3 linked regions of the Homo sapiens genome follow. The protein of the gene in region 1 interacts with the protein of each later gene in a pairwise test. Each region holds a gene or a part of one and is shown in the gene's direction. Other genes may lie near its edges.

Region 1 (7,027 bases):
GTGGTGAATACCTTGTATAGCTCCAGTGGTGAGCAAATGAGCATACTGGTTTACCATTTAGTCGTTTTATATTTTAAATGAGTGGTGCTTGCAGTTGATAGTATCCGGGTAAACTGATGCTAGACTAAGACAGCATGTTTGTGGTGAAGTACTTGCAAATAACATTAGAAATCATTGATTTCAGTTTAGAAATAAAACACAAGCTACAAAAATTTTGCTGGTTGATTTATTTTTAAGCACAAAATCAAGAATTCCAACTATGTTACGAACATTTTGAGGCAAGGACTACTTCCTCAGATGTGAATGAGAGTCCATTTCTGCCTGAGCAGCATTCTTTGTAACTAAAAGCCCCACCGGCTGAAATATTTTGAAATATTTTTCTTCAGAAAAGTAGAGAATTTGACTCCTAATTGTGTTCATGGGACTGTTAACATAGATTCAAAACAGAACTATTACTTGCTTCATTTTGGCTATGGTCAGATGAAATAGTAGGTTTTAAAAGGAAATTCCAGTGATAGTACGGAACTAGCTAGCTAGCTAGTTTAACGGATTTATTGTTTTCGGTCACAATTTGACATATTGTTATTTAAATTTTAATGTAAACCTGTGTTAAACTTTTTTATATCAGTTTTTTTATCTACATAGTTAAGTTTGAGGCAGATGTCTGTCATCAGTTGGTAGTTCATTTAACTAGTATTTACTGGAGATAGAATGGAAAAAACTGCTCCTTTGGTTCTCTTAATTTTTGTTTTGTGACGGAGTCTTACTCTGTGATCCATGCCGGAGTGCAGTGGTGGGATCTTGACTCATTATGAACTCCGCCTGTTAGGTTCAAGCGATTGTTGTCCCTCAGCCCCCGGAGTACCTGAGATTATAGGAATGTGCCACCACACCTGGATAATTTTTTCTATTTTTAGTAGACACTGGGTTTCACCATGTTGGTCAGGCCCGTCTCCATGTCCTGGCCTCAAATGAGCCGCTCGCCTTAGCCTCCCAAAGTGCTGGGATTACAGGTGTGAGCCACCCTGTCCGGCAAAACAGATTATTTCAATCTGTTCACATTTTTAAGATGAGAATCAGCTGTGGTCCATTAAATGGTCCATGTACCAAATGATAGCTTTATTATTAATAGATTAACGTCTACTCTGGTGTAGTGTTGACATGTATTACTAGGTTTTTTGAGACCCAGGAAATGTCACTGTTTGCAGCTAATGTCTTATGGTCAGAATTTCCATTTAAGAAGCTTCCCTTTGAAAACCTCTTCTTAGTACATGTCTTGTAATGCTTTTACTTTGGAATTGGGGTAGACATTCTTTGTCTTTTTTTTTTTTTTTTTTTTTGGTGGTGGAGGAGACAAAAGTTTTTACTCTGTCGCCCAGGCTGGAGTGCAATGGCTGTCTGCAACCCCCACTTCCTTCCTGGGTTCAAGCAACTCTCGTGCCTCAGCCTCCTGCGTAGCTGGGATTACAGGTGTGCCACTGCATCCAGCTGGTGTGTTTTGTTGTTTTTTTTTTCTTTTTCTTTTCCTTTTCTTTCTTTCTTCCTTTCTTTTTTTTTTTTTTAAGACGGAGTCTTGCTCTGTCACTGAGGCTGGAGTACAGTGGAATGATCTCAGCTCACTGCAACCTCTGCCTTCCAGATTCAAGCAATTCTTCTGCCTCAGCCCTCCTGAGTAGCTGGAATTACAGGCGTGTGCCACCATGCCCGGCTAATTTTTGTATTTTTAGTATACACGGGGTTTCCCCATGTTGGTCAGGCTGGTCTCAACTCGTAACCTCATGATCCACCTGCCTCCGCCTCCCAAAATGTTGGGATTACAGGCATGAGCCTCCACACCTGGCTGGTGTATTTTGTCTTAATCTGTTCAGGTGATTAATGTCTCTAGAGTGTTTTAATTTCTTAATCTGACTAGATTTTATACCAACACCATCAAGTTTGATTATGGGTGCAGTTACAATTCTCCTAGGGTTTAGTCCTTGTTCCCCTGGTAAAAGATTTTAAACAGCCTAGCCTTAATCAGTAAGTAATCAGCTATTGTTGCCTCATCTATTGTATAGCTTTCTCATAGTGAGAATTTCCGCTTAATTTTTAGCTGGTGCTTGAAGTAGTCATACTGAGCTTCTTAATATATATCCCTTTTAACTTAAAGGTTGTCACACTATGTATGTTTTTTTTCTATTTTCACACTTACCGTCCTCAACATTTTTCGAGGCAAGGACTACTTCCTCAGATGTGAATGAGAGTCCATTTCTGCCTGAGCAGCATTCTGTGTAACTAAAAGCCTTAACTGGCTGAAATATTTTGAAATATTTTTCTTCAGAAAAGTAGAGAATTTGACTCCTAATTGTGTTCATGAGACTGTTACATAGATTCAAAACAAAACTGTATTACTTGCTTTATTTTGGCTGTGGTCAGACGAAATAGTAGGTTTTAAAAAGAAATTCCAGTGATAGTACAGAACTAGCTAGCTAGCTCATTGGTTTAGATACGGGTGCCGGTGAAGGTTTGTGGCTTAGGAGGTAGATTAGATATTTATTTCCATTGGACTGAGGCTTAAGCTCAGTTTAATGCTCATGGATATGGATAACTTATTTTGATTCACCTCCAGAAATTGTCGTTAAGCAATTTGTGTTTGTGCAAGTGTTACCATCTCTCACAAAGGATATGAGTTTCTGAACACTGATATTTTATAGTTTCTGTATCATTATACTTTGCAAGATTTTGGTCAAAAAGACCAAAAGCTTTATGTCAAAATGGGAAAGTAGTGATAATAAAAAGTTACTCAGTATCTTTTTCTTTGCATTAATTCCCATGAATGGATTAAACTAAGAGATTAACCATACTTAGGGGAAATGCAAACTTTTTTCTGTTTTCTTTTTTTTTGAGACAGTGTTGCTCTGTTCCGCATGAGTGCAGTGGTGCAGTCATGGTTCTCTCACCTCCTGGGCTCAACCTGTCTTTCCATCTCAGCTTTCCTTGCTCTTTTAATTTAGGAAAATGTTCCTGTCCATAGCCACTCCTGGGACAAGATTAAACATTGCTTTGTTGAAATAGTGTGGAAACACTTTTAAGTTAACAGAGGAGAGAATTAGCAATGAGATCTTGTAAATGTTTTCACTACAGGAAGATTGGAGATATTACAACTCAGAATAACTTGCCACTATTGTATATATATAAGAGGGAGAATCATGACAAAGGTGATTAATAATATTTTTAAAGTTCTTGACTATCACATTTGTTTTTTAAGAAATATTTGGAGTTAGAACAGTTGGTAGGTGTATTTTTATAGAGTACCTGGGCCTTTGCATTAAGTTAGTTGCATTTTTAAAAAGCTTGCAGAATTGAAGACCTTTTCATACGTTGCCATAGGTTCTTATATGGAAATGACAATGTGGAATGTAGAAAGTTTAGAACTGATGTCCATGTAAGAAGTATTTTGTTCTGTTTTGAATTTTCTCTTTACAAATGTAAGTGTACCAAGCCACTGCTTTGGTGTATCTTTATCAATCACTGGGATACTAAGTTTAAGACATTTGAAATTAAGATTTCTAATAGAAACAGCAATTAGTTGAGCAACCAGTGTTTATTGAGTGCTAAGTGTGTACTGGCCAGTGAATTTAGACATAGGTGAGTAGTGAACAAGATAGACAGTGGTCTCTGCCCTGTTGGAATTAAGCGTAAATTTAGTTAGAAATGATACTACCTGTTTTTATATGAGGTATTTTTTATCAGTAGTATTTATACCCAGCCAACACATTTTGCTATGATTCCCTCAGTTACATGAAATTGCCCTGATTTTATAGATCTGAAATTTTATATGGTTCAACCTTATATCACTAGTTGTAATAATTCGTGTGCTTCTGTGGGTGAAAAGAATCAGAGATTTCGCTAATGCCATATACCACTGTTTATATACCCTTTTAATTGGAACATTTTAAAGAGTATTTGACCGTATGTGAATTGTTTATTGTAATGTATATTTGAAAATAATAAGATCCAAAGGCTATTCATTATAATAAATGCCCTGTTAATACTGACACTAGTACAGAGGAATCATTTATATCCAGTGCCAAAGGCCAGCCAACCATATAATTTGATATATGTTTTATTTTCCTGAGGAAAAGTTGCTACAGTATTACAACTATTTTATGTGCCTAGGTAAAGAAATAATGGGATAAGATTTCTAAACCCCACTGTGGAGGTTTTTGCTGGCCTTCTTAATGAAATTTAATAAAAGGAAACGACTAGAGACAATATTCACTTACTATTTATCATAAGGTCTGTTGAATTGTGCTGAGTTAATGTTAGGTTTGAATGAATTCCATTTTCCTCTTATCCAATAGGATGTACAGTTACCCAGCACGTGTACCTCCTCCTCCTCCTATTGCTCGGGCTGTAGTGCCCTCGAAACGTCAGCGTGTATCAGGAAACACTTCACGAAGGGGCAAAAGTGGCTTCAATTCTAAGAGTGGACAGCGGGGATCTTCCAAGTCTGGAAAGTGTATGTATTATTTCATTTTGTGATTTTGGTATCTCTTGTGTTTTGAGATAGGGAAGCTAATGCAGTTACAATATTTTTGTGCCACATGACTTTGTGTATTCAAAATAATGGAAGAGGCTGGGTGTGTGGTGGCTCATGCCTGTAATCCCAGCACTTTGGGAGGCCCAGCGGGTGGATCAGCTGAGGTCAGGAGTTCAAGACCAGCCTGTCCAACATGGAGGAACCCCATCTCTACCGAAAATACAAAAAATTTGCCGGGGATGGTGGTGCGTGCATGTAATCCCAGCTAATTGGGAGGCTGAGGCAGGAGAATCGCTTTTACCCAGGAGGCGGAGGTTGCAGTGAGCCGAGATCATGCCATTGCACTCCAGCCTGGGTGACGAGCAAAACTCCATCTCAAGAAAAAAAAAAAAATCCAAAATAACAGAGGAGACAAGATTGTGATTGAGTGGCCAATTCTAGACTGCAACAGCTAGGTAATTTAAAAAATGTCATTTGACTTTATGTAGTTGAGGTGTGCGTTAAGTTCCTGAGATTTTTTTGTGTTATTTAAAAACTAAAATTCAGACAGTGTTCAGTATGTTGATTTTTTTTAACTTTTCTATATTGAACTCCTCCTGTAACTGGAAATATGGAAGGCAGTAAAACATTACAGAAGGTCTGATGCAGTGGTGCGTGCCTGTAGCCCCAGATGCTTAGGGGGAGGCTAAGACCCTGGGGATCTAGGCTGTAGTGGGAGGATTTCATGAGGCCAGGAGTTTAAGTTCACTGTGATCATACGTGTGAATAGTCACTGTCCTCAGGCCTGGTCAACATAGCGACAGCCCTGATCTAAAAGACATTAAAAACAATAAAAACCATTACAGAACGTGCTTTATAATAGAACCAAGGGCCTTTATTACCGAGAAATCTGTACTGGCTCTGTTTCTCCCTGGGTATCTCCTGTGAGCTCCTGATGTAGTCTGGTGGCAGTGTATTTGCTAACTCATATCTTCGGTACATTTGATTTTAATCTAGTATTTTGTTTATATTAAAGTGAAAGGAGATGACCTTCAGGCCATTAAGAAGGAGCTGACCCAGATAAAACAAAAAGTGGATTCTCTCCTGGAAAACCTGGAAAAAATTGAAAAGGAACAGAGCAAACAAGCAGGTAAATGGGTTTTCTGCTTGCCCTTGGTATACAGTTGGGTTAGTTACATAAGGCACTTGAAAGTACATGTTGGAATAGTGGAATATAAAGCAATGTAATATGAAACTTGGGGAGTGTGAATTGGGAAGGGTATTTGTGTGGGAGGATTTAGATTTGTGCTGCAGTTCTGTGATCCTTAGTGGGGATTGTCTACGTCCTGTGGACATTACTGCCCCTAGACAGACTTGTCCTTCTCATCCGCAGTAGAGATGAAGAATGATAAGTCAGAAGAGGAGCAGAGCAGCAGCTCCGTGAAGAAAGATGAGACTAATGTGAAGATGGAGTCTGAGGGGGGTGCAGATGACTCTGCTGAGGAGGGGGACCTACTGGATGATGATGATAATGAAGATCGGGGGGATGACCAGGTGAAAACCACGGGAAAGGAAAGAAAAAGGTGGTGGAGGGGGGCTCAGGGACACATGGAGTGCCTCTAACTCCATCCTGTTTGTGTCTGTTTCTCACAGCTGGAGTTGATCAAGGATGATGAAAAAGAGGCTGAGGAAGGAGAGGATGACAGAGACAGCGCCAATGGCGAGGATGACTCTTAAGCACATAGTGGGGTTTAGAAATCTTATCCCATTATTTCTTTACCTAGGCGCTTGTCTAAGATCAAATTTTTCACCAGATCCTCTCCCCTAGTATCTTCAGCACATGCTCACTGTTCTCCCCATCCTTGTCCTTCCCATGTTCATTAATTCATATTGCCCCGCGCCTAGTCCCATTTTCACTTCCTTTGACGCTCCTAGTAGTTTTGTTAAGTCTTACCCTGTAATTTTTGCTTTTAATTTTGATACCTCTTTATGACTTAACAATAAAAAGGATGTATGGTTTTTATCAACTGTCTCCAAAATAATCTCTTGTTATGCAGGGAGTACAGTTCTTTTCATTCATACATAAGTTCAGTAGTTGCTTCCCTAACTGCAAAGGCAATCTCATTTAGTTGAGTAGCTCTTGAAAGCAGCTTTGAGTTAGAAGTATGTGTGTTACACCCTCACATTAGTGTGCTGTGTGGGGCAGTTCAACACAAATGTAACAATGTATTTTTGTGAATGAGAGTTGGCATGTCAAATGCATCCTCTAGAAAAATAATTAGTGTTATAGTCTTAAGATTTGTTTTCTAAAGTTGATACTGTGGGTTATTTTTGTGAACAGCCTGATGTTTGGGACCTTTTTTCCTCAAAATAAACAAGTCCTTATTAAACCAGGAATTTGGAGAAAAAAAAAACCCTGGTTTTTTATTTTTGTATTTTATTATTGTTTACTTCAAACTTTGTTTTACAGCGTCCTCCACAAAACCTCTAGAATGCACTAGATATATTTTTCTTGGAGTCATAATC
Region 2 (7,027 bases), on another chromosome or scaffold:
CATACAAAGTCTACTTTCAGGGACAGATGAGCCCCAGCTTGTAAATTAATTGTGTTCTAAAAGTGCATAAGTTAGCTGTTTTAGAAATTACTTGCTCAAAGAAATAAATGATAAATAATGGCTAATTTTCTAAGTAAGCCTACAGTAGTTGAGTTTCCTCATAATACAGTTGAAATATTATATATTTTATAGTTAATATGTTATATATTATATATTAAACATACTTAATGTTATATATTATATATTAAACATATTTAATATGTTATATATTATATATTAAACATATTTAATATGTTATATATTATATATTAAACATATTTAATATGTTATATATTATATATTAAACATATTTAATATGTTATATATTATATATTAAACATATTTAATATGTTATATATTATATATTAAACATTTAATATGTTATATATTATATATTAAACATATTTAATATGTTATATATTATATATTAAACATATTTAATATGTTATATATTGTATATATTAAACATATTTAATATGTTATATATATTAAAAGATATAAGCCAACTCTGAACCTGTGGTGTCACCTCTTTTTTATTTTTATTTTTTGGGACGGAGTCTTGCTCTGTCGCCCAGGCTGGAGTGCAGTGGCGTGATCTCAGCTCACTGCAAGCTTTGCCTCCCGGGTTCACGCCATTCTTCTGCCATAGCCTCCTGAGTAGCTGGGACTACAGGCTCCTGCCACCATTCCCGGCTAATTTTTTGTATTTTTAGTAGAGACGGAGTTTCGCCGTGTTAGCCAGGATGGTCTTGATCTCCTGACCTCGTGATCCATCCACCTCGGCCTCCCAGAGTGCTGGGATTACAGGCGTGAGCCACCGCGCCCGGCTGGTGTCACCTCTTAAATCATAGGGTAGTGGACACGTGAAGCTATTTAGGGTGTTCTTGGCATGAGTTATTTAGCACCATCCCCAAGTCATGTGGCATTAGGAAAATACTTTGGATTGTATAAGAATGACCTAATTTCCTAGGCACCTGGTTAGGGGAAAGTATCAGAATGTAGAAATTGGCCAGGCGTGGTGGCTCACATCTGTAAGCCTAGCACTTCGGGAGGCCAAGGCTGGGATCACCTGAGGTCAGGAGTTTGAGACCAGCCTGGCCAACATGGTGAAAACCCCGTCTCTTCTAAAAGTACAAAAATTAGCCAGGCGTGGTGGCTACTTGGGAGGCTGAGGTGGGAGGATCGGTTGAACCCAGGAGGTGGAGGTTGTAGTGAGCTGAGATGCTGCCACTGCACTCCAGCCTGGGCGACAGAGTGAGGCTTTTTGAATGTAGAAATTGGCTGTTAAGAGGAAGATGATTTTTAGGCTGAAGAAGTCGTTCTGATTTCTGTTTGTCTTAGTGGTACCAGTTCCTGCTGTCATATTTGGTAGGACTTAAGTCCTGTTTGCCTGCCTGTCATCCAGCTAAGTAGACTGGATGGAAAAGGTGGGCTGGGTGGGGAATTAGGAAAGACAGAGGGAATGTCATAGTAGTTTTACTTAAATTTTAAAACATATCAAATGAAAGGTTACGGTGAATTTAGTGAGTGTAAGTCAAATGCTTAAAGAAATAAGCCATGGTGTGAGAATCAAAGCATGAGAAAATAGTATGAAAACTGGAAACACTGTAAGAAACGTGATTTTGTATTGTCTTCCAAATATTTCAAAATTTCTAGAAAAGCGTAAATAAATAAAAACATGATAGATGAGAAAGAAGGCTTATGATCATGATTCAGTGAAGTAACCTTTTTTAACCATTACTAATCTTGCATAATTAAAATAAAATAGAATGTGATGAGATGGGGAATATTGACTGGGGTAAGTGTAACCACACAGCAAATATTCTGTTGTCAAAAAGAACAGTTTTTGTAATTGAAGGATGAGAGCACAAGTCAGTGTATCCATTGTGCAAATTGGATATTTATGCCAGGTAACTGATTAATATATAAAATGATCTATGTTTAATAGGTATGAATGGCTGGATCCAAGCATTAAGAAGACAGAATGGTCCAGAGAAGAAGAGGAAAAACTCTTGCACTTGGCCAAGTTGATGCCAACTCAGTGGAGGACCATTGCTCCAATCATTGGAAGAACAGCGGCCCAGTGCTTAGAACACTATGAATTTCTTCTGTAAGTGAGTCTTCAGAAAGAGCATAGAATATATGTATATGTTCTGAAAGAGGCTGAATAAACTTTGAGTATTTTCTGTCTTTAAACTTTTAATTATGGATGTGAGTAAACCCAAAGCTAAAGCCATTGGATAATATTTTCCATATCTCAGATGGTTGATCAAAATTATGCCTTCTGTCATATACTTCCTAAAATAATAATTTAAAAGAATTATACAAGTCATGCATGTTCATCATAGAAAATCTGGGGAAAAAATAGTAAAAGAGCAAATAAAAGTCACCCATAATCACACTGCTAAGAATTAACTACTGGAACATTTTGGTTCTTTACTAATAGTTTTTTTTTTTTTTTTTTTTTTTTTAAATTTGTATGGCTGTACCGCATTTGTGATTAGGATCTGTTTGGGTTCTATTTTAGAGTGATTGAAACCAGTCACTGAAATCAGCAAATTTTAATATCATTTCTTTCAGATGAAGTGATAGTAAAAAGGCTTTATGTTGTTAAAGCCCATCCATTGGTTTTTTTGGGGGGAAAAATATCGTCAGAACTTGGAAATCTGGTAATTTTAACTCTAAATGGTACTGTAGTGTGACTAACTCCTATGGGCTTTTTTCTAGGGATAAAGCTGCCCAAAGAGACAATGAAGAGGAAACAACAGATGATCCACGAAAACTTAAACCTGGAGAAATAGATCCAAATCCAGAAACAAAACCAGCGCGGCCTGATCCAATTGATATGGATGAGGGTAAGTGTATGCTTTGAGGAATTTATTTCTTTGGTAACTGTAAACTCCTTGGGCCTCACTCTTTTAGTTCCTTTCTGAACTCCTCTACTTTAGAATCCCTTTTTTTTTTGAGACAAGGTCTTGCTCTGTTACCCAGGCTGGAATGAAGTGGCACAATCATGGTTCACTGCGGTTTTGACCTCCTGGGCTTAAGCAATCCTCCCATCTCAGCCTCCTGAGTAGTTGGGACTACAGGTTTATGCCGCCATACCTGGCTAATTTTTAAATTTTTTTGTAGAGATGGGGTCTCCCTGTGTTACCCAGGCTGGTCTCAAACTCCTGGGCTTAAGCTATCCTCCCTTTTCTGCCTCCAAAAGTGTTGAGATTATAGGTGTGAGCCACCATACCTGATCCCCAATTCTGTCAGCAGTGTTCTTATTCTAAGTATCTTTCCAAATATGTCCAGTGTTTTCTGTTATAGAGTAGTTGCTTTTTCTGAACAGCGCCCCTTCATCTTCTGTTTCTTCAATTCAGTTAATTAAGTTAATTAAGTGTTACGGGGTGTGGTGGTATGTGCCTGTAGTGCTAGCTGCTAAGGAAGTTGAGGTGGGTCGATCTCTTTAGCCCAGGAGTTGGAGGCCAGTCTGGGCAACATAACCCCTTGAGCCCAGAAGTTGGAGGCCAGCCTGGGCAGCATAACGAGACCCTGTCTTTAAAACTGAGTAGTGTAATTCTACTGAGTAGATTTTTCAGAGGCTAGAGGTGAGCCCTTGAAGATCCTGTTTCTCATTCCTATTCCATGGAGAGAGACATCAAGTCAGAATATTGGACCTCAGTCCTCCTATTAATTACTTATTTGACTATAGGCAAGTTATTTATTCTGTGTGAGAAGGCAACCTGTGAGACGGTGATGGAGACTTAACAGTGATTCTGGGAGGCATTGAATCAGGAATTCCACAATAGAAAGTATATGGAATCAACCTAAGTGTCCATTAATGGGTGAATGGATAAAGAAAATGTGGACTGGGCATGGTGGCTCACGCCTGTAATCCCAGCACGTTGGGAGGCTGAGGTGGGCAGATCACTTGAGCCCAGGAGTTCAAGATCAGCCTGGCCAACATGGTGAAACCCTGCCTCTATAAAAAAATACAAAAATTAGCCAGGTGTGGTGGCGCATGCCTGTAGATCCAGCTACTGGGGAGGCTGAGGTGGGAGAATCACTTGAGCCCGGGAGGCTGGGTTTGCCATGAGCTGAGATCAAGCACTGCACTCCAGCCTGGGCAACAGAGCAGGACCCTGTCTCAAAAAAAAAAAAAAAAAAAAAAAAAAAAAATGGTATACACACACACACACACACACACACACACGAATACTATTTGGTCATAAAAAGCAATGAAATCATGTCATTTGCAGCAACATGGATGGCAGTAGAAGTCATTATGTTCAGTGAAATAAGCCAGGCACAGAGAGACAAATACTGCATATTCTTCCTCATATGTGGGAGCTAAAAGCGTTGATCTCATGGAGTTAGAATAGAGTGATAGATGCCAGAGGCTGGGTATGGTGTGTGGGTGGGAGAGCGGGATTAAGAGAGGTTGGTTAATGGGTACAAACGTAGATGGAAAGAAATAAGTTATAATGTTTGATAGCAGAATAGGGTGACTATAGTTAGCAACAGTGTATTACATATTTCAAAGTAGCTGGAAGAGAGGTCTGAAATAAATACTCAAGGTGATGGGTACCCCAGATATACTGACTTGATCATTACACATTCTATGCATGTAACAAACTCTCACATGTACCCTATAAATATGTAAAGTATGATGTATCAGTTAACAGAATCAGGAATTGGATTTTCAACCCGTGTGTGCCACCTATTAGCTGTTTGACCTTAGACAAGTCATAAAATCTCTCTGAGCTTTGATTCCCTTTCTTGCGAGATGGGGAATACTAATACCTGCTTTACCTTAGCAGGGTTGTTGTGAAGCACTCAGTGAATATTTGTTAAGTTTCTAAAATGTAAAGTTTGAACATAGTGGTTCCCAAAGGCAGGCTGTGGCTAGGCTGGCTGCATCATTATCACAGGGGGAGCATTTAAAAATAGAAATATCAGGGCTTCTCCTGTATATACTGAGTCAGTACATCTGGGGTGGTGTGGGAGGCACGGGAAGAGCAGTGATCTTGGAATCTGAGTATTTTACAAGTTCCCATGTGATTTAGTTGGACAGCCTTGCATAGGAATTGTTCTAAGGCATCAATAGTGGCATGTATTATTCCATTCTATAGAGCCACGAAAAATGTATTGGATGAGAGAAATTGTTCTGAGGGGAAAAAAAAGTATCTAATGATAGTTGTTCTCTCATAATTAAATAGTTTTTACCCTATTTCACAATTTGTGCTGTGCCAGTTAGTTGATAATAATGAAGGATACAATAATTGTAGCCACTGTTTAATGAATGCTTGCGAGATGCTTTACATATTTCGTTTTACTTAGCCCTTCTCAAAATCCTTGTGAAATAGGAATTGTTATTCGAATTTTATAGGGAAACCATGCTTAGGGAGGGTAAGTAAGTGACTAAGGTCACATAGCTAGCAAGTGGTGGGCCTGGTTTTTAACCTAGGTTCTTTGACTTCAAAACTCAAGCTGTTTCCATTATGCTACACCATAAAATCAGTATTTTTATGTTTTTTTCTCATTTTGAGCAATAGAGTGTCTCTTACATACCTTGCTTCTAGAGTATGTAAGAACTAAGAAAATACTTAGTTTTTCTTCTTTTAATTTTTGCAGATGAACTTGAGATGCTTTCTGAAGCCAGAGCCCGCTTGGCTAATACTCAGGGAAAGAAGGCCAAGAGGAAAGCAAGAGAGAAACAATTGGAAGAAGCAAGGTATGTGTGGATATAGGAATAAAAAGCAAAGTGTTTTTCTCACATAACAATCAACACAGAATACTTCTGTGACCAGATATGTGGTTTTTTTTTTTTTTTCCCCTCTCCACCAGCAATCAGGCAATCAATTCTGCAGTGGATAGCTGGGTGTCCTCTAATTCAGTTAACTCTAATACTGTCTACCTGGAGATAGCTCCAGATCTTACAGGTTGAGGACTTAGTCCCACAAGACTGAACCCCAGTTTTGATGCTGACCCTAAACCCCAGGTTATTTTGCTTGTGTTTCTGACCAGCGAGCTGGGTTCCACTGCCCCTTCCTTGGGTTCCATTCATCTGCTAGAGGACTCACAGAACTCAGGGAAACACCCACATTTACAAAGGATATTTTAAAGGATACAAATCAACGGCCCCATGAAGAGATACACAGGGTGAAGCCTGGAAGGGTCCTGAGTGCAGGTGCTTATGTCCCATTGAAGTTGGGATATGCCACCCTCCCAGCCAGTGGGTGTGTTCTTGTTCACCTTTTCGGAAGCCCCCATGTATTTGGCTGCCCACAAGTTCTCCAGACTCTGTCCTTTTGGGTTTTTATGGAGGCTTCATTAAATAGGCAAGATTGATTACATCATTGGCCATTGCTTATCAACTCGACCTTCAGCCCTTCTCCCCTCCCCTGAGGTTGGGGGTTGTGGCTGAAAGTCCCAAGCCCTCTAATCCTGCCGTGGTCTTTCTGGTGACTGCCAGCTATCAGTCAACTCATTAACATGCAGAAAGACACTTTTCACTTGGAAGAGTCCCAGGATTTTAGGAGTTGCATTGTTGGAAACGGATGAAGACCAAATACATTATTTCACAATGTGTGCTTGTCTCCATTCATAGTTCAATAATTAGTCTAGGCATCCTTAGGACCAATAAAACTGCATGATTTATTAACCCGTTGGGTGAATAATAATTGGAATTGTCCAGTTCCTATTTCGCTAGTATTCTTTACCTTCTTTATTTCTCTGAAACTATCTTGTATTTTTTTCCCCCAACCATTTCAGAATATTTATAGAAAACCATATTTAAAAAAAATTGAAGCTATGGCAGAGGTAATGCCCAGTTTATCCAGTATGTTGAGTGTGTTCTGTTGGCATATGAGAGCTTCATTTGTTGTAGCTATTTTGGAGTCAGATGACTGTAGGACACACAAGATTATGTGTCTTTTGTATGACTGCCAATTAGTTACTTTCCTTGATTGGTATTGGGAAGGCACTGGCTGTGAAACAG
Region 3 (7,027 bases), on another chromosome or scaffold:
CTGGCTGGGACCTCCAGCAGGGCTGGGTCTGCTCCTGTGGGGTCATGAGAGCCACACAGCCATGTCTGTGGTATTCTGTATGGGTACACAACCCTGGCCACGTTCCTTGCCTATATTGGTGCTTGCAGCAGGTTCCACCAGAAGGGTTGTTCCTCAACAAGTATCTTTGACTGAGTTCTCAGAATCATCCTCCATCCGTTCCCCCGGTCTCCCCCATACCTGCTCCATGTGACTACAGGTGTACCTTCCAGCTGTGCTGAGGACCTGACTGTGCTCCCAGCATTTCTGCTCTTACTTGCCATAAGGGTGACTTTTTTGGAAGGGCTGTGGTTGCTCTTCACATTTTGGGACAGGAACCCTTGGGTTGCTGGATGCTTCTGCAGAAGGGATGAGAGTATGGAAAAGGGCCCAAGTGAATGCGTTTGGTGCCTTCCAGCAGCCTGAGATTGTGAGAACCACCCCTGTGCACTCTTTAAATGCTTTAAAACGTTTTGTGTATGTGCTGAATTCTTGTAATAAACCCATGGAATAGGCAGGACATGAGTTATTTGGTTGAACTTTCCTTGTCATCAACTAGTTGTCGGTGCCTGAATCCTTGTCTGCATCTAACCTTTTATTTTTTATTTTTGTTTTTTAGAGGTAGGGTCTTGCTCTGTTGTTGCCCAGGCTGGAATTCAAGTGGTGCAATCATGACTCACTGCAGCCTTGAATTCCTGGGCTCAAGCGATGCTCCCACCTCAGCCTCCCGAGTTGCTCAGACTTCAGGTGCCTTCCACCACGCCTGGCTGATTTTTTGTGGGGGGGGATAGGGCCTTGCTATATTGCCCAGGTTGGAGCATCCAGCCTGTTCCTGAATGTTTCCCCTGTTACCCTGACGTAGGTACCACAATGGTCCCCTGTACTGGCCTGAGACACAAGACTAGTTGGCTGGACCTTGGAGAAGTAACTGCATGTCTCTGTTCCTGCCATTGCTGAAAGATCCTGGCTGTGCCATCAGCTTGCCTTGTTACCCTGTTCTTGGCTTCAGTTTCCCCATCTATAAAACGAAGGGGTTGAACTAGCTGATCTCTGTGGTGTCTTCTATTTCGGGCATTACCTCCTCTGGGGAAGAGAAAAACTAAAGAATCTAGTGACCACCTTAGGACATCCTACCCACATTACCAGCTTCAGTAGACAACCTTAATAAGTGGCTCATGGCACCTGATGAGGGAGATCCTTGTGCAGGTAAATGCAGGAGCCCTAAATGAAGCCAGCATTTTATTGCTCTCACAAGTAATGGGGAGAGTAAGGTGAGCTCTTAGTCTTGGAGGTAGATGGTGTTTGTGTTGTGAAGATGAAACTGAGGCCAGGCATGGTGGCTCATACCTGTAATTCCACCACTTTGGGGAGGCCAGGGCAGAAGGATTCTCTGAGCCCAGGAGTTCAAAACCAGCCCAGGCAACATAGTGAGACCTCATCGCTACAAAAATGGAAAAGCTAGCCAGGCATTGTGGTGCACACCTATAGTCCCAGATACTCTGGAGGCTGAGGCAGGAAGATCTCTTGAGCCTAAGAGTTTGATGCTGCAGTGAGCTATGATAGCGCCACTGCACTCTAGCCTGGGAGACAGACCGAGACTCCATTTCCAAAAAAAAAAAAAAAAAAATGAGGCCGGGCATGGTGGCTCGCACTTATAATGCCAGTACTTTGGGAGGCCAAGGCGGGCGGATCACTTGAGGTCAGGGATTCCTGACCTCAAGGAACTCCTTGAGGTGAGGAGACCAGCCTGGCCAACGTGGTGAAACCCTGTCTCTCCAAAAAAAAAAAAAAGAGCTGGGCGTGGTGGCAGACGCCTGTAATTCCAGCTACTTGGGAGGCTGAGGCAGGAGAATCATTTGAACCCAGAGGACAGGGTTGCAGTGAGCAGAGTTTGTGCCACTGCACTCCAGCCTGGGCAACAGAGCGAGACTCCATAAAAAAAAAAAAAAGAAATGAAAAATAAATAAAAATAAGAAACTGAGATTCGGAAAGATGAAGTGGCTTCCTCAGGCCAAGCATGAAGCTAGGAAGCAAACTCCAGTGTAACTAAGGCCTGTTCTCTTTGCCTTTTTTTTTTTTTTGAGACAGGGTCTTGCTCTCCTGCCCAGGATGGAGTGCAATGGTATGATCTCGGCTCACTGCAACCTCCATCTCTCCAGGGTTCAGGGGATTCTCGTGCCTCAGCCTGCCAAGTAGCTGGGACTACAGGTGTGCGCCACCACACCCAGCTAACTTTGTATCTTTAGTAGAGACGGGGTTTCATCATGTTGGCCAGGCTGGTCTCAAGCTCCTGACCGCAAGTGATCCACCCTCCTTGGCCTCCCAAAGTGCTGGGATTACAGGTGTGAGCCACCATGCCCGGCCCTCTCTGCCATTTATGGTATCGTTCTGCCATGCTGGATCGTATCTGGTCTCTGGCTGTGAGTTTCTTCTCTGCAGGGACTGAGGTGTGTAGAGATGGGGGAGGTCTCCAGTGCTTAGACCTGACTCTAGGGACATTGGGAGATGGAAATGTTTTGAGGCTTGGTTCCTGTCTCTAGGGCTTTCTGTAGTCAAGGTGAGGGGTACCTCAGACTGCTGGGAACTATAAGGCGAGGGGTCCTAACGGCCACTGTGGGGCTTCAGAGGAAGGAAAGGGTAGTTGAGGACTCCGGAAAGACCTGAAGGCTGGATACCTTTAGTTAAGGAGTGAGGAAGGGGTGAGCCGAGGGGGCAGTGCAGGCAGCCTTGTGGACGCTTGTCAGGGCCCTGGAGTGGGTGGGCTGGGCGGGCTTGATGGAAGCAGGTGTTGGGCGGCTTTGGAACCTCTTGTTCCTCCCTACATGTGGCTGGTCAGCCTGCGGAGCCCACGCTTCCCCTGCTCCTGGTTTGCCAGTTTCCCCTTTTTCTGCCCTCCTCACTCTGGTGTGGCTGTCATCCTAAACAAGTGTCATACTGAGTGGATGGATGGCAGCACTTACCCACCCATGACGCTGATGAGGCTGCCCTGTGCCGCTCCCCCTGCCCTCACAAACAGCAGAGTCAGGGTGCCTGGTCTCAGGAGCCCTGCTCCTCCGTGAACTCAGCTGTGTGCCGTTGACAAATCACCAAGGCTTTCTGGGTCTCAGTCTCCCTGTCTGTACAAGGGGCTGGGCTTTAAGATGTCATCTGCTGGGGTGGCTGGAATCTAGTAGGAACCAAGGCGGGTGTTTGGGAATCACACTTGCTGTGATTTAGCCTCCCGGACTGCTCCCCACAGAGCATCTGTGCTCAGGCAGACGGGCCCACCAGCTCATCCGTGACTGCCTTGACCACCTGAGAGGTGGCCAGGGACAGGATGGGAGCTGTGGGGTAGCCTTTTGGACTCTATAGAACCTGAAAGATGGAACCCTGAGGAAAAGGGTCATCGGACCCAGAGGGAATCCTGGCTGGAAACGAGTCTTGAGCCAGGATAAGGAAACAGCCCCTACACTCACCCCACCCTACCCCAAGCGGAAACTCTGTGCTGAGAACTTGCTATTTAAGAGGCCTCTGGGGAGGTCTGGCCAGAAAGGAGCCATTTGAGGGAGGGTTTAAAATTAGCCTGGGTGAAATGTGTGGCCCCTGGGGAGAACTGAAGCAGAGGTTTCCGTGGGTCTGCTCTGGTCTGGGTCTTTGACCCAAATCATGTCCTGCTTTCCTGGGGAGGAAGGGGAGGAGAGAAGGGAGTGGTACCGATCTAGGTCCCTCCATCAGGACGCTGGTGGCTGCACTCTTGGCCCATCCTCTGGGGTGAGGTGTTGGAGGCAGACCCTGGGCTACCCAGAGGGCTTGGTGCTCGGGTCCTGTCGTCCTTTCCCAGCACCCAAAGCACCCATCACCTCTGCCAGGCTGGGCACGTAGTAGGAAGACTTGGGTTTTGGGTTTTTTTTTTTTGAGACGGAGTTTTGCTCTTGTTGCTCAGGCTGGAGTGCAGTGGGCCAGGCTGGGCATGTAGTAGGAAGACTTGGGTTTTGGGTTTTTTTTTTGAGACGGAGTTTTGCTCTTGTTGCCCAGGCTGGAGTGCAGTGGTGTGATCTCAGCTCACTGCAACCTCTGCCTCCCGATTCAAGTGATTCTCCTACCTCAGCATCCCTTGTAGCTGGGATTATAGGCATGCGCCACCACACCCAGCTAATTTTGTATTTTTTAGTAGAGACGGGGTTTCTCCATGTTGGTCAGGCTGGTCTTGAACTCCCAACCTCAAGTGATCCACCCACCTCGGCCTCTCAAAGTGCTGGGATTACAGGTGTAAGCCACCACGCCCAGCCTTTTTTTTCTTTTTTTCTGAGATGGAGTCTCACTCTGTCGCCCATGCTGGAGTGCAGTGGTGCGATCTTGGCTCACCACAACCTCTGCCTCCTGGGTTCTAGTGATTCTCTTGCCTCAGCCTCCGAAGTAGCTGGGACTGCAGGGATGGGCCACCACACCTGGCTAATTTTTTGTATTTTTAGTAGAGATGGGGTTTTACCACGTCGGCCAGGCTGGTCTCAAACTCTTGACCTCAAGTGATCCACCCGCCTCAGCCTTCCAAAGTGCTGGGGTTACAGGCATGAGCCACTGCACCTGGCCGAGGCCTGGGTTTTGAGTTCCAGGTCTGCTGCCTTTAAAGAACAAGCCATGTGACCTTGGACAAGTCACTTCTGCTTGGGGATTCACACGCACACCTCAAGGCCCTTACATCAAAGGGCAGAGAGGCCTGCTGGGCTCAGGTCAGGAGCTCGGTTTCACCCATCCTGGATCCTTGGCTATCCAGACCCCCAGATGCTGCCAACAACAAAGCAGGATTCGAGTGGTGTCTCCGTGGGACATGAGCTGCCAGGGCTGTGAGGTGTGAGGTGCCATCACCCCAACCCCGGGCACAGAGGCTGGTATAGTGGTGCCTCTACTGAGGGGAAGACGTGTCCCAAGGGAGAAGATGCGTCCCAAGCGGCCCGAGATTCTGCTGAATGGGCTTGGCAAAAGCTCACGTGAGGTTTGTCTTCACCATGGCTGAGAGTCAAAGTTTAAGAGACAAAGTTTGTCTTCACCGTGGCTGAGAGTCATTCTTGCGTGGGTGGGAGTGGTGACACCAGTAACCAGCAGCTATCCTGGCTGATTTCCTTTGACATTCTTGGCTCTGTTGAGTTCTCTGGGTGCATTGGGTGTAGTTTTACCTAACATTGCTCCAGCTTCCTGAGACAAGCCACTGATAAAAGCCATCGTCTCAGAAAGGCTGTTGTCTGGGGTCAGCGGGCCATCACTAGAGAGCGGAGCAAGTTCTTTGGTACCTCTCAAGAAGGGGATGTGGCCCACTGTAGGGCAACTTAATGCTTTCAAGAATGGCCGCGTGATGGGGTGAGGCATGTGAACTTCTAAAATCTGCAGCGGTGAGTTCAGAAGACCTGTGCTTGGCTTCGCAGGAGGAGATGTGGCCCAGAGCAGGAGTCAAGCGTGTAGGGACGCTCTGCTTGTTCACATTTTTCATTATTCAGGAAGCCACGGTTTCAAAAAATGTTTTGAATGGATCTAAGCTATGGAAAGTCTCCCCTTCCCCATCACAATTTTTGGCTGATCAGGGCTTGCTAGTTTAGCATCCGGTGCCAGCAGCGTTTAAATAGCAGCAGTGGCTACAGTCACAGGATGGACACCTAGTGTTTAGATCTGGCTTGTAACCATGTTGGGGGCAATGCTCAAAATTCACAGCATCAGCCGGGCACGGTGGCTCAATCCTGTCATCTCAGCACTTTGGGAGGCCGAGGTGGGCGGATCACTTGCGGTCAGGAGTTCGAGACCAGCGTGACCAATGTGGTGAAACCCCATCTCTACTAAAAATGCAAAGAATTAGCTGGGCATGGTGGTGCATGCATGTAATCCCAGCTACATGGGAGGCTGAGGCAGGAGAATCGCTTGAACCGGGGAGGCAGAGGTTGCAGTGAGCCGAGATGGCGCCACTGCACTCCAGTCCGGGTGACAGCAAAACTCCATCTCAAAAAAAAAAAAACTCACAGCATCAAATGCTTCACCTGAAGCTGGCAAGATCTTAGCGTGTTCTTCAAAACTCAGCATAATGGTTTTGACTGTTTACCCATTACCCTGTTCAGTCAACATTTAGTACCATCACCATGCTAAGAGCAGGCAGAGAGGCAGGAGTATAAGGTGTTTCTTGACATTGAAGGTCCCACATCTCGTGTAGGAGCAGGAGATGGATGAGAAAGTGCCGGGCCCTCTGTTGAAATCACTGCAGGGGATAGTGGGCATGGGACTCTGTTTCCTTTACATCTTTGCTCCTCCCCTCGACCAGACTGGAGGCTCTCTACCAGGAGGCCATGGGTATCATCTAGAAAACAGATACTTTTTTGTCTGAGGGGCCAGTGGTGCAATGGATTAAAAAAATAGATACATTTTTACATGTACATTTTTGGGGGGTCAGGCACTGCAGCTTTCTTCAGATTTTTAGAGGAGGCTTTGGTTTGAAAAGGCATACCGATTAGCATGGCGTGGTGGTGTACCCCAGTAATCCCAGCTACTCAGGAGGCTGAGGCAGGAGAATCTCTTGAACCCAGGAGGTGGAGGTTGCAGTGAGCTGAGATCACGCCACTGCAGTTTAGCCTGGGCAACAGAGTAAGACTCTGTCTCAAAAAAAAAAAAGAAAAAAAAAAAGGCATGCTGGGCTGGGTTTGTACCCTTATCAAACAGGGCTTTCTTTTTGCCTCTGTTCACCAGCAGACTCAGTCTGTGTGCAGAGGCATCCGGCAGACGCAGCACGATGCCTCTGGGATGTACCCAGAGAAAGGAAAGGGCTTTGAGAAATTGAGTGCTGTGAAACAATGTTAATTTGCCTTGGGTATCCAAGGAGGCCCAGGAAAGGCTGAATTCCTCTAAGCTCTAGAAGGATTCCAGTTGCCTGCCTGAAGGAAGCGCTGTTGTCATCCCTGTCCGTCTTGGGCAGCCTGGCCCTGATCACTGGTCTCTGTCTCCAGGTCCGGACACTGTTTGTCAGCGGCCTCCCTGTGGACATTAAACCCAGAGA

Evidence for each region.
Region 2: the proteins of HNRNPC (region 1) and CDC5L interact in binary tests that used the Homo sapiens proteins (3 or more experiments, as listed by UniProt).
Region 3: the proteins of HNRNPC (region 1) and RBPMS2 interact in binary tests that used the Homo sapiens proteins (3 or more experiments, as listed by UniProt).

What each region holds. Positions count from the first base shown.
Region 1 is NC_000014.9:21,210,434-21,217,460, reverse strand, and holds part of HNRNPC (heterogeneous nuclear ribonucleoproteins C1/C2), read left to right. Parts: intron 1-4,343; coding exon 4,344-4,501; intron 4,502-5,537; coding exon 5,538-5,651; intron 5,652-5,894; coding exon 5,895-6,055; intron 6,056-6,154; coding exon 6,155-6,238; 3' UTR 6,239-7,027. UniProt on the Homo sapiens protein: Binds pre-mRNA and nucleates the assembly of 40S hnRNP particles. Interacts with poly-U tracts in the 3'-UTR or 5'-UTR of mRNA and modulates the stability and the level of translation of bound mRNA molecules. Single HNRNPC tetramers bind 230-240 nucleotides.
Region 2 is NC_000006.12:44,390,680-44,397,706, forward strand, and holds part of CDC5L (cell division cycle 5-like protein), read left to right. Parts: intron 1-1,987; coding exon 1,988-2,149; intron 2,150-2,766; coding exon 2,767-2,894; intron 2,895-5,661; coding exon 5,662-5,761; intron 5,762-7,027.
Region 3 is NC_000015.10:64,751,589-64,758,615, reverse strand, and holds part of RBPMS2 (RNA-binding protein with multiple splicing 2), read left to right. Parts: intron 1-6,977; coding exon 6,978-7,027.